3 linked regions of the Homo sapiens genome follow. The protein of the gene in region 3 purifies or fractionates together with the protein of the main gene of each other region. This does not show direct contact. Each region holds a gene or a part of one and is shown on either strand. Other genes may lie near its edges.

What was found. The genes of interacting proteins can lie anywhere in the genome.
Region 1: the proteins of NUFIP1 (region 3) and NAPB purify together in Homo sapiens (affinity purification with mass spectrometry; 3 studies listed by BioGRID and IntAct, with this or other methods). This does not show direct contact.
Region 2: the proteins of NUFIP1 (region 3) and SYN1 purify together in Homo sapiens (affinity purification with mass spectrometry; 3 studies listed by BioGRID and IntAct, with this or other methods). This does not show direct contact.

The regions. Positions count from the first base shown.
Region 1 is NC_000020.11:23,390,479-23,397,514, forward strand, and holds part of NAPB (beta-soluble NSF attachment protein), read right to left. Parts: intron 6,723-7,036; coding exon of another isoform or gene 6,711-6,722; coding exon 6,594-6,710; intron 4,990-6,593; coding exon of another isoform or gene 4,799-4,989; exon of another isoform or gene 4,748-4,798; coding exon of another isoform or gene 4,708-4,747; coding exon 4,661-4,707; intron 4,522-4,660; coding exon 4,444-4,521; intron 1-4,443. UniProt on the Homo sapiens protein: Required for vesicular transport between the endoplasmic reticulum and the Golgi apparatus.
Region 2 is NC_000023.11:47,571,391-47,574,883, forward strand, and holds the end of SYN1 (synapsin-1), read right to left. Parts: intron 3,386-3,493; coding exon 3,298-3,385; intron 3,201-3,297; coding exon 2,612-3,200; intron 1,610-2,611; coding exon 1,474-1,609; 3' UTR 511-1,473; downstream 1-510. Other genes in the region: ARAF (serine/threonine-protein kinase A-Raf), read left to right, coding at 1-67. UniProt on the Homo sapiens protein: Neuronal phosphoprotein that coats synaptic vesicles, and binds to the cytoskeleton. Acts as a regulator of synaptic vesicles trafficking, involved in the control of neurotransmitter release at the pre-synaptic terminal.
Region 3 is NC_000013.11:44,986,452-44,993,690, forward strand, and holds the start of NUFIP1 (FMR1-interacting protein NUFIP1), read right to left. Parts: upstream 3,021-7,239; 5' UTR 2,986-3,020; coding exon 2,574-2,985; intron 1-2,573. Other genes in the region: GPALPP1 (GPALPP motifs-containing protein 1), read left to right, coding at 3,204-3,291. UniProt on the Homo sapiens protein: Binds RNA.

The DNA.
Region 1 (7,036 bases), on a different chromosome or scaffold from region 3:
ATATGCCCAGCTACACCACTTCCTCAGCTTCCTCCATAGTGAGGGGCAGCCTATGACTAGTTCTCTCCAGTGGAATGTAAACAGACATGTTGGGGGCCACTCCCAGGCTTGGGCCATATATCTCACTTTGCATCCTCCTCCAGGCCTTCCACTTCCCATGAGCTAGGAGGGCTATGACCAAGTCCAGAGTGACACTGTAAGCTAGACACCAAAATGGCAGAACTGTCAGGCAGGTTCCTAAGTAATTACAAAGGACACAAGGTACCTCCAACCCCAGTGTCTCTACCACTGTCAAACCCTTAGCAGCCACACTGGATTGTTAGAGAGCTATGAAGCCCTAATTACACCTTACGTCTATGACTTGCAGCACAGACTACACACACTAATACCTTAAGTGTCACCTAGAATAAGGGTGTTGCCGTCAATCTAAAATATATGGCATCAAGTGGAGAAGAAACAGAGATCACAGGCCAGAAAGCTAGAAGTCCTTGTCATGCTGTGGTAGAAGTTAGTGAAATCAAGCACGTGACAACTCAGAAAAAAGAACTGGTGTCGGCCAGGTGCGGTGGCTCATGCCTGTAATCCCAGCACTTTTGGAGGCCGAGGAGGGTGGAATACCTGAGGAGTTCAGGACTAGCCTGGCCAACATGGTGAAACCCTGTCTCTACTAAAAAGATACAAAAATTAGCCGGGCGTGGTGTGGGCACCCGTAATCCCAGCTACTTGGGAGGCTGAGACAGGAGAACTGCTTGAACCGGGGAGGCAGAGGTTGCAGTGAGCTGAGATCGCGCCATTGCACTCCAGCCTGGGTGACAAGAGTGAAACTCTGTCTCAAACAAACAAACAAACAAAAAAATAAGTGTCTACCGGAGTCCAAAACTAAGCAAAATGGCTGAGAAGAGTCAGATGATAGTGTGTGCTGCTGTTTTTAGCACAGTTTTGTAAGAGCTGAACTCTGCAAAGAATCAGCTGGTTTGTAGACGGTGGTAGACAGCCTTAGAAATAAAGCTCTCATAAGATTGAAAAAACCTTCTATACCCCAAATAACAAGAGATAAGTATGAGCAGCTCTTTAAACCAGGGCTCTAGCCAAAGTTTTTCTCTAACAGGTCAGACAAGAAATATTTTAGGTTTTGTGCATCTTTGTTGCAACTACTCAGCTCTCTTGTGGTAGCATAAAAGCAGCCATACACAAGATATAAATGAATAAGTGTGGTTGTGTTCCAATAAAACTATATTTATGAACAATGAAATTTCTAATTTCATATAATTTTTACACGTCGCAAAATGCTTTTTTCTCTCAAGGATTAAAAACCGTAAAAACCATTTTTAGCATGCAAACATACAGAAGCAGGTGGTGGGTTTGCAGGATGCTTGAATGACAAAGGTTTCACAGCAAATGCAAATGAGGGAGCTAGCAGTCTCTGAAAATCAGATTAAAGGTGCTGCCTTTCTGCCCAAGCCCATTAGTTAAGTGGCTTCAAGGCAGCTCCTAGTGAGTTAGAAGAGATTTGCAGGGACAAGAAAACAAATAAAACAAAACAGGCCATGGAACTATAGGCAGCTTTCATTTGTGATGCACTTTGTCTTCATTCACTTAGCATCTGTTACTGAGCACCCACTTTGTAAATAGGCATCATGCTAGGCTCAGGGCTGTGATGGTGAGCGGAACAGTCATGGGCCCTGCCCTCACAGAGCCCACATTTTAGAGGGAGGAGATGTACCTTCATCAGGTAATCTCACATGTGTGTACATGACAGCTCTGACAGGTGTTCCAAAGAAATATTTTCTTCCAGAGAAATATTTTCTTCCAGACTATTTCTGTGTGTGACTAAGTATTTGCAAAAAGAGAACCATAGTACACCTGTTCTTTTATAGCTGCATTTTAAAATTCAGTATTCCGTGAAGGTCAGGCATGATGGTCCATGACTGTAATCTCAGCATTTGGGAGGCCAAGATGGGAGGACTGCTTGAGTCCAGGAGTTTGAGACCAGCCTGGGCAACATGAAAAGACCTCATTTGTATGAAAAATTAAAAAATTAGCCGGGCATGGTGGCACATGCCTGTAGTCTCAGCTACTTGGAAGGCTGAGGTGGGAGGATCGCTTGAGCCCAGGAGGCTGAGGCTACAGTGAGCTGTGTTCATGCCACTCCAACCTGTCCAGCCTGTGGAACAGAATGAGGCACACGCCACCATTCCTGGATAGTTTTTTTTTTTATATTTTTAGTAGAGATGGGGATTTCTCATGTTGCCCAGGCTGGTCTTGAACTCCTGGGCTCAAGTGATCCTCCTGCCTTGGCCTCCCAAAGTGGTAGGATTATAGGCATCAGCCACTGTACCTGGCCTTTTTTTTTTCAAGAGAAAAAAAGAGTATGTCACATTTCATTTTATCTGCTCTCAAGTTTATGGAGACCCATGTGTTGGAGACCATGCCTGGGCAGCAGAAATGACACAGCACTGCAGGCTCCTGCCCCAGAGTGCCCTTCTGACCACTGTGAAAGAGGAAGCTGGAACAGGAGCCTCTGCTGGCAAAGATGCTCTGCGCACAGTGCTCATCCCCGCAAGACTCACTCAAACCTAAATAAAGATACTGTGGCCATCCCAGACACCCTGACCAAATAAATACCCCAGCCACACCAGATCCATCTCCCTCCCATTCCATCATCAATTCCACACCAGGGAACAAAGGAGGTTCAGATCCAGCTCCATCACCTGCCTCCAGGATCCACAGATAACCTTCCAAAGAGAAGGCTCACACACACGTCAATGCACAGGGTGGCCCTGACTTGATCAAGATCAGGGAGTATCCTCAGAAAAGTATGGCAATTATAAAAAAAAAAGGTCAAATAATAAATTTTATGTAACAAATATGAGCAAATTTTGTGCTGAATAACCAACAGGTGGAGGTCACACAGTCAAAAGAGTGAACGTTAACAATGCCAGTCCAATTTCAGTAACGCCTAGCAGATCCTTCCCCAGACCAGGAAGACTCCATTTGGTATGGTGGAGGTAGGGGTAGCATTTGTTTATTTAGCAAATATTTAGACCCCACTAGGTCCCAGAGTTCTGGGCTCTTGGGACACATCAGCAAAGCAGAGACAAAGCTCTCTGCTGACACGTGTGCCCAATCTGGCGGAGGGAGAGAGACAACCAAAATGAGAATGATGAGCAAGCATATGAGAGGGCATATTGTAAGGAGACATCTGCTCAGCAATACAAGAAGTTAAGTGAGGTGTGTGGGGATCTACTATGTCTTCCTGGGGGGCTAAATTAACTAGGGGGTCATAATAGTTAATCATGGAAATAGGTAATAAATGAGCAAAAATGGAAGGGCACGGGGAAGTTAGCCATGTGGACTTGAAAGATGTGAGGAGTCAGCCACGTGGACATCTGGGGAAGAGCTTTGCAGACAGAGGAAATCGTGGATACAAAGGTCCTGAGGCAGGAGCGCTCATCTGGCATGTGTGCGGAACAGCAAGGAGGCCAGGATGGCCATGCAGGGTATGCAAGAGGAGGAGAATAACAGAAAAGAGGAGAGGCCAGGCCACACAGATGCATGGGGAGTGTGGGGCTGGGAGGAAGCAATTCAGTGGACCCATGAAGGCTCTGCACAGCTCCAGCTGTTCCTCTTAGTGAAAGGGGTCTAATGACTGTCAGCAGTAGAGAAACAGAGTATGATGCAATGCTTAGAAGGCTCACTCTGGCTACTCTGTGGCATGGGGATGTGGGGTTGGCAAGGTAGGGAGAGCAAAAGCAGGGAGACCGGTTTGAAGGATCCTGCAGCGATCAAGTGTGAGCTGAGAGACAAGGTAGTGAGTTGTGCCAAGACTTGGGAGCAGGAAGGACACCGCTCACAAAAATTGCTCACAGGTTGTAGAGAAAGAGAAAAGGCAAGGAAGCCTGTAGTTTAGCGGGGAACACTGGGTTGGGGACATCTGAGAATCCAGTCCCAGACATGTTGGGTTAGAGATGACTGCTGGACAAAGTGGAGAGGTCAGCAGGCAGGTGGATACAGTAATCTAGCATTTGGAGAGAGGTCTAGGCTGCAGTCAGATTTCTGAGTCACTGGCACACAGATACTTAAAGCTGTGATGCTGACTGAGTGTACAGAGGTGACCTCTTACACTTTCTTCACTGGGCCTTAGAGTACTAAGCAATACAGCTGAAGGTTCTTTTGGCAATGCTAATGTTCTGACATGAATCAGAGAGAGTGGAAACAACAGGTGATCTCTGTAAATCTTAATCAGCTCTCATGTCTTAGATGTCCACTCCAGGAAAACAGCCCATCTACTTAGCCAGCTAGTAGACTTTGCCAGAAAGTCTCCAGGCAAGGCCATCTATGACCACTCTACACCTACGATCACTCTCAGACTGAGGAGAGGAGAGTTCTTTGAGTCAGCTTATCTGCCTGCTTCACATCTGAGGAAGTGTGCCCACTGCTTACCTTCTCAATGTCTACAAGTTCAGTCTCATAGATCTCTGCAATAGTAATGTGGTGCTTGGCTGCAATTGTAAACCTTCCCTAGGGGAAAAAACAAGAAACAGTCACACACCGATTTTACCTATCTGAATGCCAGTTTGGGAACATAAAAAAGAAAGATAGAACTCTAAGCCATCTCAAGACTCCACCCCACAGCCACTCAAGCAATGCAATGTCTTACCATGTCTGTGTAAATGTCGATGGCTGCATTTAAGCAGTTGATAGCCTCTGAAGCGTAGGCATTTAAGAAAAACAATGAAAAATCCATTCAGTCAAAGAGGGTTCAGGTGAGGCTGTCTTCCTGGCTGTTATCAGAACGTTAATGAGGTATAATTTTGGAGTGGAGGGTGGGCAGGTTAATGAGAAGCAAACAAAAATCATGCACAAGTCCAGATTCATCAGCATGGCTTTGTTCCCAGCAGCTATAGTATAATTTAGGGAACTGTAGCTGGAGTAACATTGGCTTAGTTACTCTTAACCTTAAAGTGAGGACTCCATCCAGGCAAAAGACTGTATTATAAAGAAAATAAAACCATAGAGGTTGTCACCAACACTGATAAATTGTATCTGCTAAAATATGAATGCAAACATATTCCTCATTAATACCATGCATATATATTAATTTTGGAACATGGCACCACATCACAAGAACAATCACCTCAATAGATTCTACTCTCCATGCAGCCAAAAGCAAAAGCACTTTGAAATGCCTATTCAAACAACCCTTAAGCAAAGTCAACATTCTGTATAATGTTCAAAGATGCTAAATTGTAGCATACTAACAAAATGAAGAAACAAATCTAATAAATAATAATGCTAATAAATTTTACTAATTTTCTAAACAAGTGAGCCAAAAAATTTTCCCTATCATAAAATGATGGTGTTTATGATGCTGGCATACAGTGACAGCTCCAAGTTTATTACGTTTGGTTTAAAGAGGCAGCAAAGTAGAAAGGCCTGACTACAAAATTAGAAAGGTAAGCAGATGAACAAAAATTAAAACAATTTCCCTCTAAACTACATAAAAAATGTGGATCCCTGTTACACCTTTTAAAATACAGAATATAAAGAGAAAAATAATCTATCAATAATCCCGCTCAAATCCGTTGTTAGTACTCAGATGTACTTTCCTTTTGCGTTTATTAGACACATTTCTATATGCACAAACTTTTTTCTGAAAATGAGATTATACAACATTCAGTCTCATGTGCTTCTTTAATTGACATGTAAACATTTACCAGGTCACTGAAGATTCTCTGAAACCAGGGATTTTAATGCCTGCACCATATTCTAAAGTACTGATGCATTACAATGTTACCACTCTAACAGCTTATTTAACCTGTGTCCAGTTTGTCACTTTGGGAAATAAACTGTGATTAACCCTTATACCAAAGGTATTGAAGATACCCTATTTCTTTATGACATATTTATTCTCAAAATTTGGGATCTGTGTGTTAAACAAAATGGACTGCTAAAAGAAAAAGGAAAAACACAAAATTTCCGCTGTGCACGCGTGTGGAAGGTAAGAAATTAATACTTTTAATTACACTCTTCTAACTAAAAAGAAATAATCTTTGCAAAATTTTACCACATTAAATATCCAATTGCATTCTTTCCTCAAAACAAATACTTTGAAAAACTTTTTAAAAAACCAAATGAATACTGTATGAATCAGACTTTTTAACGATTGAATATTACAATCTCCCATTAACTGGATCTGAAAACTCCTTAGGTATTTAGGAGTAAGGGAACATAAGAGTTTCCTTTTATGAACAATATACATTTTCACAAAATTAAGATATAAGAAGTCTTAGATAAAATTAAAGGTAATTTCCAAAAAATTCTCTAAAATGCAATATAAATAAGAGTTTAATTAAATGATGCTATAAAGTAAACAGCCAGTATAAATTTAACATAATTTCTCCTCATAAAAGCCCCCAAATGATTAAAAAAGAAAAATCCCTAAGGTTATCAAAATTCTCTATTATTCCAAAATACAAAAATTCCTTTTTACCAGGACTTGAAAGCACACCAACACTGACCTTAACGTTGAGGGAAGTACTGACTGGTTAGTTACACACAGAGATAGCATGCTACATGCCTGGCTGTCTTACCTTGGGGATCTGCCTTTTTGTAAGCATTTCCAGCATCCACAAAGCTGGTAGCAGAGTCATGTTTGCTCTGAAGCTGCATGTGGAGCTTGGCTGCCTGACAAAATGCGTTTCCTGCAGCTGAAGAAGACACTACAATTAAACACAGAGGAACAAGTCCCCCCCAGAGCAGCCCATGCTGTAAGCACTGGACCTCCCTAGAAAAATTATATTCCACTGAAAAGAAGCATTCTAGTCAGAAGCAAAAATCCATGTGGTCCAGTGCACCTCGGGCAAATATAAAAATAACCAGAATCAAGTCAAACAGCGATGAAAGCTTCTCCACCTCAGCTCCAGCAGACTTTCCAAGTGTCCCTGGGCACTAAGCCACTATTCCCTGATCTGTCCATTCAATACCAGTAGCCAAGTCTTGGGCTACTCAATTCAATTCCACTAACATATAATAA
Region 2 (3,493 bases), on a different chromosome or scaffold from region 3:
CTTGCACCGCACCCAGGCCGATGAGTTGCCTGCCTGCCTACTCAGCGCAGCCCGCCTTGTGCCTTAGGCCCCGCCCAAGCCACCAGGGAGCCAATCTCAGCCCTCCACGCCAAGGAGCCTTGCCCACCAGCCAATCAATGTTCGTCTCTGCCCTGATGCTGCCTCAGGATCCCCCATTCCCCACCCTGGGAGATGAGGGGGTCCCCATGTGCTTTTCCAGTTCTTCTGGAATTGGGGGACCCCCGCCAAAGACTGAGCCCCCTGTCTCCTCCATCATTTGGTTTCCTCTTGGCTTTGGGGATACTTCTAAATTTTGGGAGCTCCTCCATCTCCAATGGCTGGGATTTGTGGCAGGGATTCCACTCAGAACCTCTCTGGAATTTGTGCCTGATGTGCCTTCCACTGGATTTTGGGGTTCCCAGCACCCCATGTGGATTTTGGGGGGTCCCTTTTGTGTCTCCCCCGCCATTCAAGGACTCCTCTCTTTCTTCACCAAGAAGCACAGAATTCTGCTGGGCCTTTGCTTGTTTATTTTGTTTCCCGACTCTTCTCTTGGGGTTCAGAGCCGCTGAGGGGTGGGGTGAGTCCAGGCAAGGAGTGAAGGTCAGGGGGAGGTGCGGACCACATAAACAGCGTCACTGCACGCATCACCACAGGCGGCACGATGAACGAGGACCACATATGCCAAGCACGGCACAAAAGGAGGCCACGTCAGTCACAGACACAGACACCACAGCAAAGGTGGGGAAGCGGAGACCACTGGCCTTCCGTGTGCAAAGGATTCTGGGAAGATGGGTGGAGTTTGCATATTTAAAGACAGCTGTCAGAGGCAGGAAACTGGGGAGGGGGTCCCTGGGGGAACCGAGGGGTCCTGGAAGTGGGAGGGGCTCCCAAGGTATTGAATGAGGTTGAGGGGAGCTGGTGAAGGGAAATCCTTGTGGGGCTAGGTGTTGGGTGGCATTTGAAGATGTGGATCTTCAGAGGGATGGAAGATCCATGGGAAGGGGCTCAACAGTAGGGGTTTCTTGAGGATTTGGAAAATTATGATGGGAAATAGGTGTGCTGGAGAGATTTGGGACCAAAAATAGGGTTTTCCAGGAACTTCAGGGCTCCAGGAAGGGATTCTGCAATGGGTTGCCTGGTATTTGGGCACTTCCAGGAAGGAAAACGCCCTCTGGGGAAACCAGGGGCGGAGGTCTTCAGGAATGTGGAGGTTCTAAAACAGAAGTAGATCCTGAAGTGACCACGAGTGGGGTTCTAAAAGGACTTGGGGATTCCACATGTGAGAACCGGATTTAGGGCCAGGAGGAGTCAGGTTTCTCAAGGTACTCGGGGATCTTGAGGAATGAGAGGTGGAATCTTGGAGAACCGGGAGATGGGTTCTCAAGGGATTTGGAGACTCCAAAAGTGAGAAATGGATTCAGGGCCCAGAGAAGGGTTGCCCAGGGATTTTGGGGTTCTCAGAGTGGGGTATCAGTCGGAGAAGAGGCTGGCGAAAGACTTCCTCAGGCTGCGGATGGTCTCAGCTTTCACCTCGTCCTGGCTAAGGCTGGGCCTGGGCGGGGCTGGCTCTGGAAGGTTGAAGGCATTGGTCAGAGACTGGGATTTGCTAGAGAGAGACAAGGTGGAGGCGTGGGAGGAAGGGGGAAGAGGAAGGGGAGGAAGGGGAGAGAAACACAACGTTACCCCAGGCCCAGCCCCAGCCCTGCCCCTCTGATCCTGGGGCTGTGCCTGTGACCTCCCCACCTGCCACCATGGGCCTGGACCCTAACAGGTTCTCAAGGCTGGGAGCACTCAGGTGGAGTGGGTGGAGTCCTGGGCCAGGGAGGCGAGATCTGGGACAGGCTGGGAGGACTTGGATCCAGGGTGAAGTGTGGGATTCGTGGCAAGAGTCCTGGGCAGAACCTTCTCTGTGAATTCTTGGCTAGTTTGATACAAAGGGGAAGATGAGCAGGGAAGTTTCCAATCTAAGGGTGAGGTGTCTAGGAGGGCATAGAAAGGGCTTGGACCAAGGACAGGCTGTTGGGCAAGTCAGCCTAAGGCAGAGCAGCTGGGTGGGGCAGGGAGGACGTCTGAGCTGGGATGGGAGTTGGAATGGACCAGAAAAGGCAGATGGGTGATGATTCGCGGGGAGACTGAGATGGGCCAGAAGGATGTGAAGGAGGAGGAAAAGTATGAGGATGGAGTGGGAAGAGCCAGATGATAGGAGGACTAGGACTCGGGCCAGGAGTTTTAGGGATGGGTTGGTGGCGGGGGGGCGAGTTTGGCAGGGAAGGCTCTGGGCTGGGCAGGAAGTTGCAGAGGGTGGGTCAGCCAGGTGCCTGGGAGGCCCTGGAGGAGGAAACTTTCCCAGGGCCTTTGAGGAGGAATTCGAACTGAGTGCAGTTTCTCTGGGATTCTGGCACCAAATTCCTGGGGTGGGGGTGCGGAGCCTCTGGTGGGCCGGGAGGAGCGAAAGCTTGGGGGAAGGGCTTGGCTCAGGCTGGAGAGAGTTCGTGGGACCCCTGCATAGGACCTGGGTCTGAGGAGCAAGGGAGCTAGGGCTGCTCTACTGGGGCAGCGGCCCGCTTTGTGAGCAGCAAGGCGAAGGCTGCTGTAGGGGTCCCCTTACTTGAGCTGGGGGTGCGGAGGTCCCCCTGCAGCGGCGGTGGCGGGTGGCGGCACGTCCTGGCTGGGTTTCTGGGCCAGCTGTGGTTTGGGACGTCCAGCGGGGCCCGGGCCGCTGGGCCGAGGCTGCTGCGTGGTGGGTGGCCCAGTGCGGGGCACGGGACCCGCCTGGCTGGCCTGGCGTGTGGGGCCGGCTGGGCCTGGGGGTTTCTGGGGCGGGCCCTGGCGCTGCTGCCCGCCCGGTGGGGCCCCAGAGGCCTTTGGCGGAGCCGGGCCAGAGACGGATGTCTGACGGGTAGCCTGTGGGGGGCCCGCCTGGCGCTGGGGAGACGGAGAGGCGGGCGGGCGGGCTGCTGGAGGCGCCCCGGGGCCTCCCGCCACTGGCCGGGATTGGCGGCCTTGACCCTGGGTCGGCGGCGCGGCCTGGGACGCGGGCTGCTGGGGCGCTGAGGTGGGACTTGGAAGGCGCTGGGGCAGGGGGCTGCCAGCTGGGGGTCCAAGGCCTGAAAGGTGCTGCTGGCCCTGCGGGGGCGGGCGCTGCTGCAATGGGGGTCCCTGGCGCTGGGGGCCTGGACCCGGCTGTGGAGGGCCGCCTGGGGGACAGAGGGAGAGAAAGAGCACACGTGAGAGTGAGCGGGTAAGAGATGGCGGGCTGAGGGAGGGGACTGCGACCGCCAGCCTCTCGCTTACCCTGTGGTGGGGGTCGCTGCTGAGCCGGGGGCCCTGCGGGCTGCTGGGAGGTCTGGCGGCCCAAGGGCAGGGCCCCTGGGGACGGAGTCTGCGGCAGAGGAATGGAGCAGGAGAGGTTAAAAATAGTTACCAGCCAGTGGAGCATCAGCCAGTGATGACACAGGTTCCCTGTGCGCTGGGTGTTGCCCCACTTGTG
Region 3 (7,239 bases):
GAGGCTGAGGTGGGTGGATCACGAGGTCAGGCGATCGAGACCATCCTGGCTAACATGGTGAAACCCCATCTCTACTAAAAATACAAAAAAATCAGCCGGGCGTGGTGGTGGGCGCCTGTAGTCCCAGCTACTAGGGAGGCTGAGGCAGGAGAACGGCGTGAACCTGGGAGGCAGAGCTTGCAATGAGCCAAGATCGAGCCACTGCACTCCAGCCTGGGCAACAGAGCAAGACTCCATCTCAAAAAAAAAAAAAAAAAAAGAAGTGGAGCCACAAGATGTGACTTGCTGCAATCTCATGGTAAACCTTTAATGGATGAGAAGTGGCTTCTTATGGATGAGGAAAGAAAGTGCTTTTTTGAGAAGGAATCTACTCCTGGTGAAGATGCTGTGAACACTGTTGAAATGACAACAAAGGATTTATAATATTATATAAACTTAGTTGATAAAGTAGCCTCGACTTCCTGGGCTCAAGGAATCCTCCTGCCTCAGCCTCCCATGCTTCTAGGACCACAGGCATTCCACCACGCCTGGCTAATTTTATTTTTTTTGTAGAGACGGGGGTCTCACTTTGTTGCCCAGGCAGGTCTCAAACTCCTGGGCTCAAGCAATCCTCTTGCCTCTGCCTCTCAAAGTGCTAAGATTAGGCTGGGTGCAGTGGCTCACGCTTGTAATCTCAGCACTTTTCGGAGGCCAAGGAGGATGGATCACTTGAGGTCAGGAGTTCGAGATAAGCCTGGCCAACATGGTGAAACCTTGTCTCTACTAAAAATACAAAAATTAGCCAGGCATGGTGGCGGGCACCTGTAGTACCAGCTGCTCGGGAGGCTGAGGCAGGAGAATCACCTCAACCTGGGAGGTGGAGGTTGCAATGAGCCAAGATCACGCCATTGCACTCCAGCCTGAGCAACAGAGACTCTGTCTCAACAAATTAAAAAAAAAAATAAATAAAGTGCCCAGATTATAGGTGTGAGCTACCCTGCTCAGCCTAAAGTATTTTTTAATCAAGGTATGTAAGTTGTTTTTTAAGACATAATGGTATTGCACACTTACTAGACTATGGTATAATGTAAAAATAACTTTTTTGCCCCATAGGATCTGCAGGAAAACATACTTTTACATGCAACGGAAAACCAAAAAAAAAATAATTGTGTGACTTGCTTTACTGCAGTGGTCTGTAACTGAACCCACAAGAGCTCCAAGGTATCCCCAGATCTAGAATCCAACTACTTCTCACCATCCCTTGGGCTTCACCCTGGTCCAAGTCTCCAATATCTCTTGTTTAGAAAAGTAACTACAATAGCTTCCTAACCGGTTTCCCTTTCAGTCAGTTCTCACCAACAGACACATTAATCCTCTTAAAACGTAAATCAGGTCATGTCAATCCGCTGTACTACCCACCTCACAACAGTAAAAGTCAAAGTCCCACGATCTACAAAGACATACCAGGTCTTACCCTCCTCCCCCATCTTCTACAATTATACTCCAGACTCAGTCCTCTGTAGCCACACTGGTTCCCATTCTGATGTATAGCTTCTAAGCCTCAAGACCTTTGCACTTGCAGTTCCTTCTGCCCGTACCCCTATTCTCCCAGTTGTATGCATGGCTGTGATCTCTCACCTCCCTAAAGTCTTCGCTCATATGTCACCTTCCTTATGACTAACAATGACATTTAAAACTGCACTACCTGGCCCGGCGTGGTGGCTCATGCCTGTAATCCCAACACTTTGGGAGGCTGAGGCGGGCGGATGCCTGAGCTCAGGAGTTAGAGACAGGCCTGTCCAACACGGGGCAACCCCCTTTCTACTAAAAATATAAAAAATTAGCCGGGTGTGGTGGCGTGGGCCTGTAGTCCCAGCTACTCAGGAGTTTGAGGCATGAGAATTGCTTGAACTCGGGAGGCAGAGGTTGCAGTGAGCCTCTCTGCAGAGACTGCATAGGCTGGAGTGAAGTAGATCGCGCTACTCTTCACTCCAGCCTGGGCGACAGAGCGACACTCTGTCTCCAAAAAAAAAGAAAAAAAGAAAATCCTGCACTACTTACCATTCTTCTTTGTTTTATCTCTCTCCATGCCACTCAACCTTCTAATGCACAATATTTTATTTTGCTTATTGTCTGTCTTCCTACACAAGAGAGATAATATTAAGCTCCATAATATTTTTTGTATGTTCTGCTCACTGCTATATACCCAGATTCTGGTACATAGTCGGAATTCAATAAATAACTGCTAAATGGAATTAACAGTCAACAGGAAAACATTCTAGTCAGACATATTTTGAGAACAAAGGATTTACAATATTATATAAACTTAGTTGATAAAGCAGCCTCGACTTCCTGGGTTCAAGGAATCCTCCTGCCTCAGCCTCCCATGCATCTGCGACCACAGGCATGCCACCATGCCTGGCTAATTTTATTTTTTTTGTAGAGACGGGGGTCTCACTTTGCTTTGAGATGCTAATGACCAGACTCCAAGAGTGCAGAGGCAAGGCAGAGTAGAGAGAGGAAGCAGAGAAAGGGGAGAGGAAAGAACGGGGGAAAAAGGTAAAGGGGTCGACTCACGTGGAAAAATAGCCTACCTGCAGGGTTGAAGGACTTCTGATGCCGAGGAAACCTATCAGAAGACTGTCTCCAATACCACGATGTGGAAGCATGGAAATTCCAAGGCTGGCCGCTGGGTTGAGGCTGAGAATCAAGGGGAGACTGGGCGTCGAAGGGGGGTTGCGCCCCGGGAAGAATCTGGGCGTCGAAGGGGGGCGGAGCCCCGGGGAGAGACTGGGCCTCCATGGGGGGCTGCGACTCAGAGGAAGGCTTTGACCCGGCTGCGGGAAGCGAGGACGTAAGTGGTGGTGGCGGTGGCGGCAGCATTGCCCAGAACATCCAGCTGTCCCGCGGCGGGGCAGTGTCGCTCAGGGGCCCTAACGTGGGAGTCAGCTCGGGAGACGCATGCCACCCGATAGGAGTCTCGAAATCACTAGTCGGCTCAGCCATACCACTGGCGGGTCCGGAGTCTAGCACGCGACTGTGGAGCAAGCATTAGGCGTCACTTCCTTTACCGTGAACTACAAGGCTCAGCCAACCACAGGCTTTACGTCATTTCTCGGCGCCGGGAAACCTGCCATTCTTCGCTGCTGATCGCGGGATTCTTTTTGGATAGGGTTGACGTTCGTGGATAGACTCATATCTGTGACCAGTGTCCGCCACCGCGGATGGCAAGAGACCTGATCGGACCGGCCCTGCCGCCCGGCTTCAAGGCCCGCGGAACAGCGGAGGACGAAGAGCGGGACCCGAGCCCTGGTAAGCGGCGGCGTCTCCGCTGCCCACCAGGCCCATCTACCCACTCCCTGGCCGGGCCCTGCTCGCTGAAGAAAGTCGGAGGCCTAGGAGGGCGGAGGAGTGGGGAGTGGGCGCGGCCTGACCCGAGAGAACTTTTCTCTTCCCAAACAGTAGCAGGGGGGAGGAGGCTGGGGGACCCTCCTAGAAACGAGCTTTGGCGTGGTTTGGCTTCGTGATGATAATACATTCTCATTTAGCCTTAATATGAGCTGCACGCTGCCCTAACTGACTGATACCCACTCAGTCATTTAAGCCGTATAAGAAAAAAACTATTTTCCCATGTTGCAAATGGGTACGCCCAAGCCCATGCCAGTGTCTAGATCATACTGCTAGCAAGTGATGGAGCGCGACTTAGAAGGAAGCGGTTCTCTTAACCTCTGTGCCATATTGCCTTCTGATTACAAGAACCTTGCAGATCCTGTTCTCTCCAGCCCCCGACCTGCCTTCCTAGCCTCTCATTCTGTTATTGCATCTGACAAACACAGCCCAATACTCAATCCAGTCTGAGTTGCTGCGCAATTCCTTAACGCTCTAGGCTTCTGGGCTTCCTCTGGTTGCATTCCTAAACATAACTGACAAACTTCTCCCCATCCTTCAAGGCCCAACTTAAATGTCACACCAATAAAACCTTTCCAGATTCCCCGAAGCATTGTCATGCCTTTCTTTTTGCCCTCGGGTTTTTTCCTAATTACATTGCATATTTAGTACACTGTATTTGAATAATTTGTCGACATAATCTGTCTCCACCATTGCACTATGGTCTTCTACCTGAACACGCAACAGGCACTTGGTATATACGAAACGAATGCTTCTCGGATTCCGGCATGCATACCTATCTGCTTTAATGTTTATTCACATTTGTAGACTAGCACCGACACCCAGTTGGAGAAGAGTAAAGCTGAAAGAGTAACCCTGCCATTTCTGAATCTAATTTTTCTTCCTGGTCTACCCGGAGGCTATGTTTCTACTACAGGCCCCTTTCCAATATAATTTCTGTCATAACCACTTTAAAAATTATGCCTTCCAGCTGAGCGAGGTGGCACAAGCCTGTAATCTCAGCACTTTGAGAGGCTGAGACGGGGCGGATCACTTGAACTCAGGAGTTCAAGACCAGCCTGGCCAACATGTTGAAACCCCATCTCTACTAAAAATACAAAAATTAGCCGGGCGTGGTGGCGGGCGCCTGTAATCCCAGCTGCTCTGGAGGCTGAGGCAGGAGAATCGCTTGAACCCAGGAGGCGGAGGTTGCAGTGAGCCGAGAGTGCCACTGCGCTCCAGCCTGGGCGACGGAACGAGAGTTTGTCTCAATAAATAAATAAATAAAAGTAAATGTGAAAAATTATGCTTTCCTTCCTGTAGGAGATAGCTTTAAAAAAATAAAATAAGGCCAGGTGCGGTGGCTCACGCCTGTGAACCCAGCGCTTTGGGAGGCCGAGGCGGGCGGATCACGAGGTCGAGAGATCGAGACCATTCTGGCCAACATGGTGAAACCCTGTCTCTACTAAAAATACAAAAATTAGCCAGGCATGGTGGCACGTACCTGTAGTCCCAGCTACTTGGGAGGCTGAGGCAGGAGAATTGCTTGAACCTGGGAGGCGGAGGTTGCGGTGAGCCGAGATCGCGCCACTGCACTCCAGCCTGGCGACAGAGTGAGACTCTGTCTCAAAAAAAAAAAAGAAAAAGATTCTTCGTATATATTTGTTGAATGACTTCTCTTCGTCAAGCACAATATCTTACACGTAGTGTGTCATTTTAAACACATAATCTCCCCTGCTATAATTCCATTCCCTTCATAACCGCCTAGATGGCTGAACCTAAAACGGTTGCCAAAAAATCTTCATATATCATTTTTATTTCATCTATCTGGATTTTTAAGAAGTTTGCCAGTACCAATGGCCTTCACATCCACTATATCACACCATAGAAGCTGCACTTGGACCATCTTCCAGTTATTACCTGCATCACCACCCCTCCTACAACCAGAGGGTAACTGCTTCCTTGATTTATAGCATCACAGATTCGTTTTGCATGTTTTCTCTTTCATAACTGGCTTCCTATCTTGGTACTACATTACTTTGTGAGATTCATTCATGTAGATTAGCATTATTATAGATTGTTGAAGTTCATAATCTGGTCTTTAAACAAACAGAATTATTATAGGTTGTTTCTTTACATTGCTATATAGTCATCCATTAGATGAATGTTCTGCAATTTATCCATTTTACGTTGGATGAACATTTGAGTAATTTCCATTTGGAGGCTGTTATAAAATGTGCTGCTATGCATTGTAGTATATGTCTTATGGTAGATACTCCCAGCTTCCAAAGTCACCAAAGTTCTCAGCGTGTATGAGAATTCTAGTTGTTCCACATTCTAATATTTAGTTTTTTTCTTTTAAATCCGGTGGTTTGTAGCAATATCTCATGGTAGTTTTAATTTGTATTTCCCTGGTGACAAATGAAATTGACCACCTTTTCATGTGTTATTTGACCATATGAATACATGCTGTGTTCAGTCTTTTGCTTATTTTTCCATTGAGTTGTCTGTCTTCATATTGATTTATAGAGTTCTTTTTATAGTCTGGATATGAGTCATTTTCCAGATAGGTGTATCAGAAATATCTTCTCTAATTCTGTGGTTTTTTCACTCATGTTGGTATGTTTTGATTAACATAAGTTTTTAATTTTAATATATTCTGACTTTTAATTTTTTTCTTTTATGGTAGAATTTTTTGCATCCTATTTAAGCTATCTTTGCCCACCCCAAGGTTATAAAGCTCTTCTGTGTTTTCTTCTAAAAGCATTATTGTTTCAGCTTTCACATTTATATTTGCAATTCATCTGGAATTGATATTTGTGTGTGGTGTGAGATAGGGATGAAAATTTTTTGCCCCTGTAAGGGTATCCTGGCACCATTTATTGAACAGACCATCCTTTCACCACTATCACCTTCCTTATAAATCAGGCAACCATATATATGCATCTAGTTTTTTTTCTTGTTTATTCTGGTAAAATATACACATCTGTCATATTAACCATTTGTAAGCATATAGGTCAGTGGCACTTAGGTACAGTCACATTGTTGTGCGGTCATCACCACCATCCATCTCTAGAACTATTTTCATCTTGCAAAACTGAAACCTATTCCCATTAAACAATAACTCCCCATTCTCCCCTCTGACCCAGTCCCTGGTAACTACCATCTACTTTCTTTTTCTGTTAATTGGACTATTTTAGGTACTTCATTTAATGGAATCATACAGTACTTGCCCTTTGGTTACTGGCTTATTTCACTTAGCATAATTTTTTCAAGCTTTACTTATTGTAGCACGTTAGAATTTCCTTTCTTTTTAAGACTCAACAGTATTCCGTGTATGTATATACTGTATAGACTACATTTTGTTTATTCATCTGTTGCTGGACCCTTGGGTTGCTATGTATGCTATTGTGAATAATGCTGTTATGAACATGGGTGTACAAATAATCTGTTCAAGTCCCTGCTTTCATTTCTTTTGGTCGTATACCCAGAAATGGGATTGCTGGACCATGTGGTAATTCTACAACATTTTGAGAGGCCGGGCACGGTGACTCACACCTGTAATCCCAGCACTTTGGGAGACCGAGGCAGGTGACCTCACCTGAGGTCAAGAGGTCAAGACCAGCCTGGCCAACATGGTGAAACCTCGTCTTTACTAAAAATACAAAAATTAGCCAGGCGTGGTGGATTACCCAGAGATCTTGTTAAGATGCCAACTCTGATTCAGGTGATCTGGGACCTGTAGTCCCAGCTACTGGGGAGGCTGAGGCTTGAGAATCACTTGTACCTGGGAGGTAGAGGTTGCAGTGAGCCGAGATCGCGCCACTGCACTCCAGCCTGGGCGACAGATCGAGACTCCGTCTCAAAAAAAAA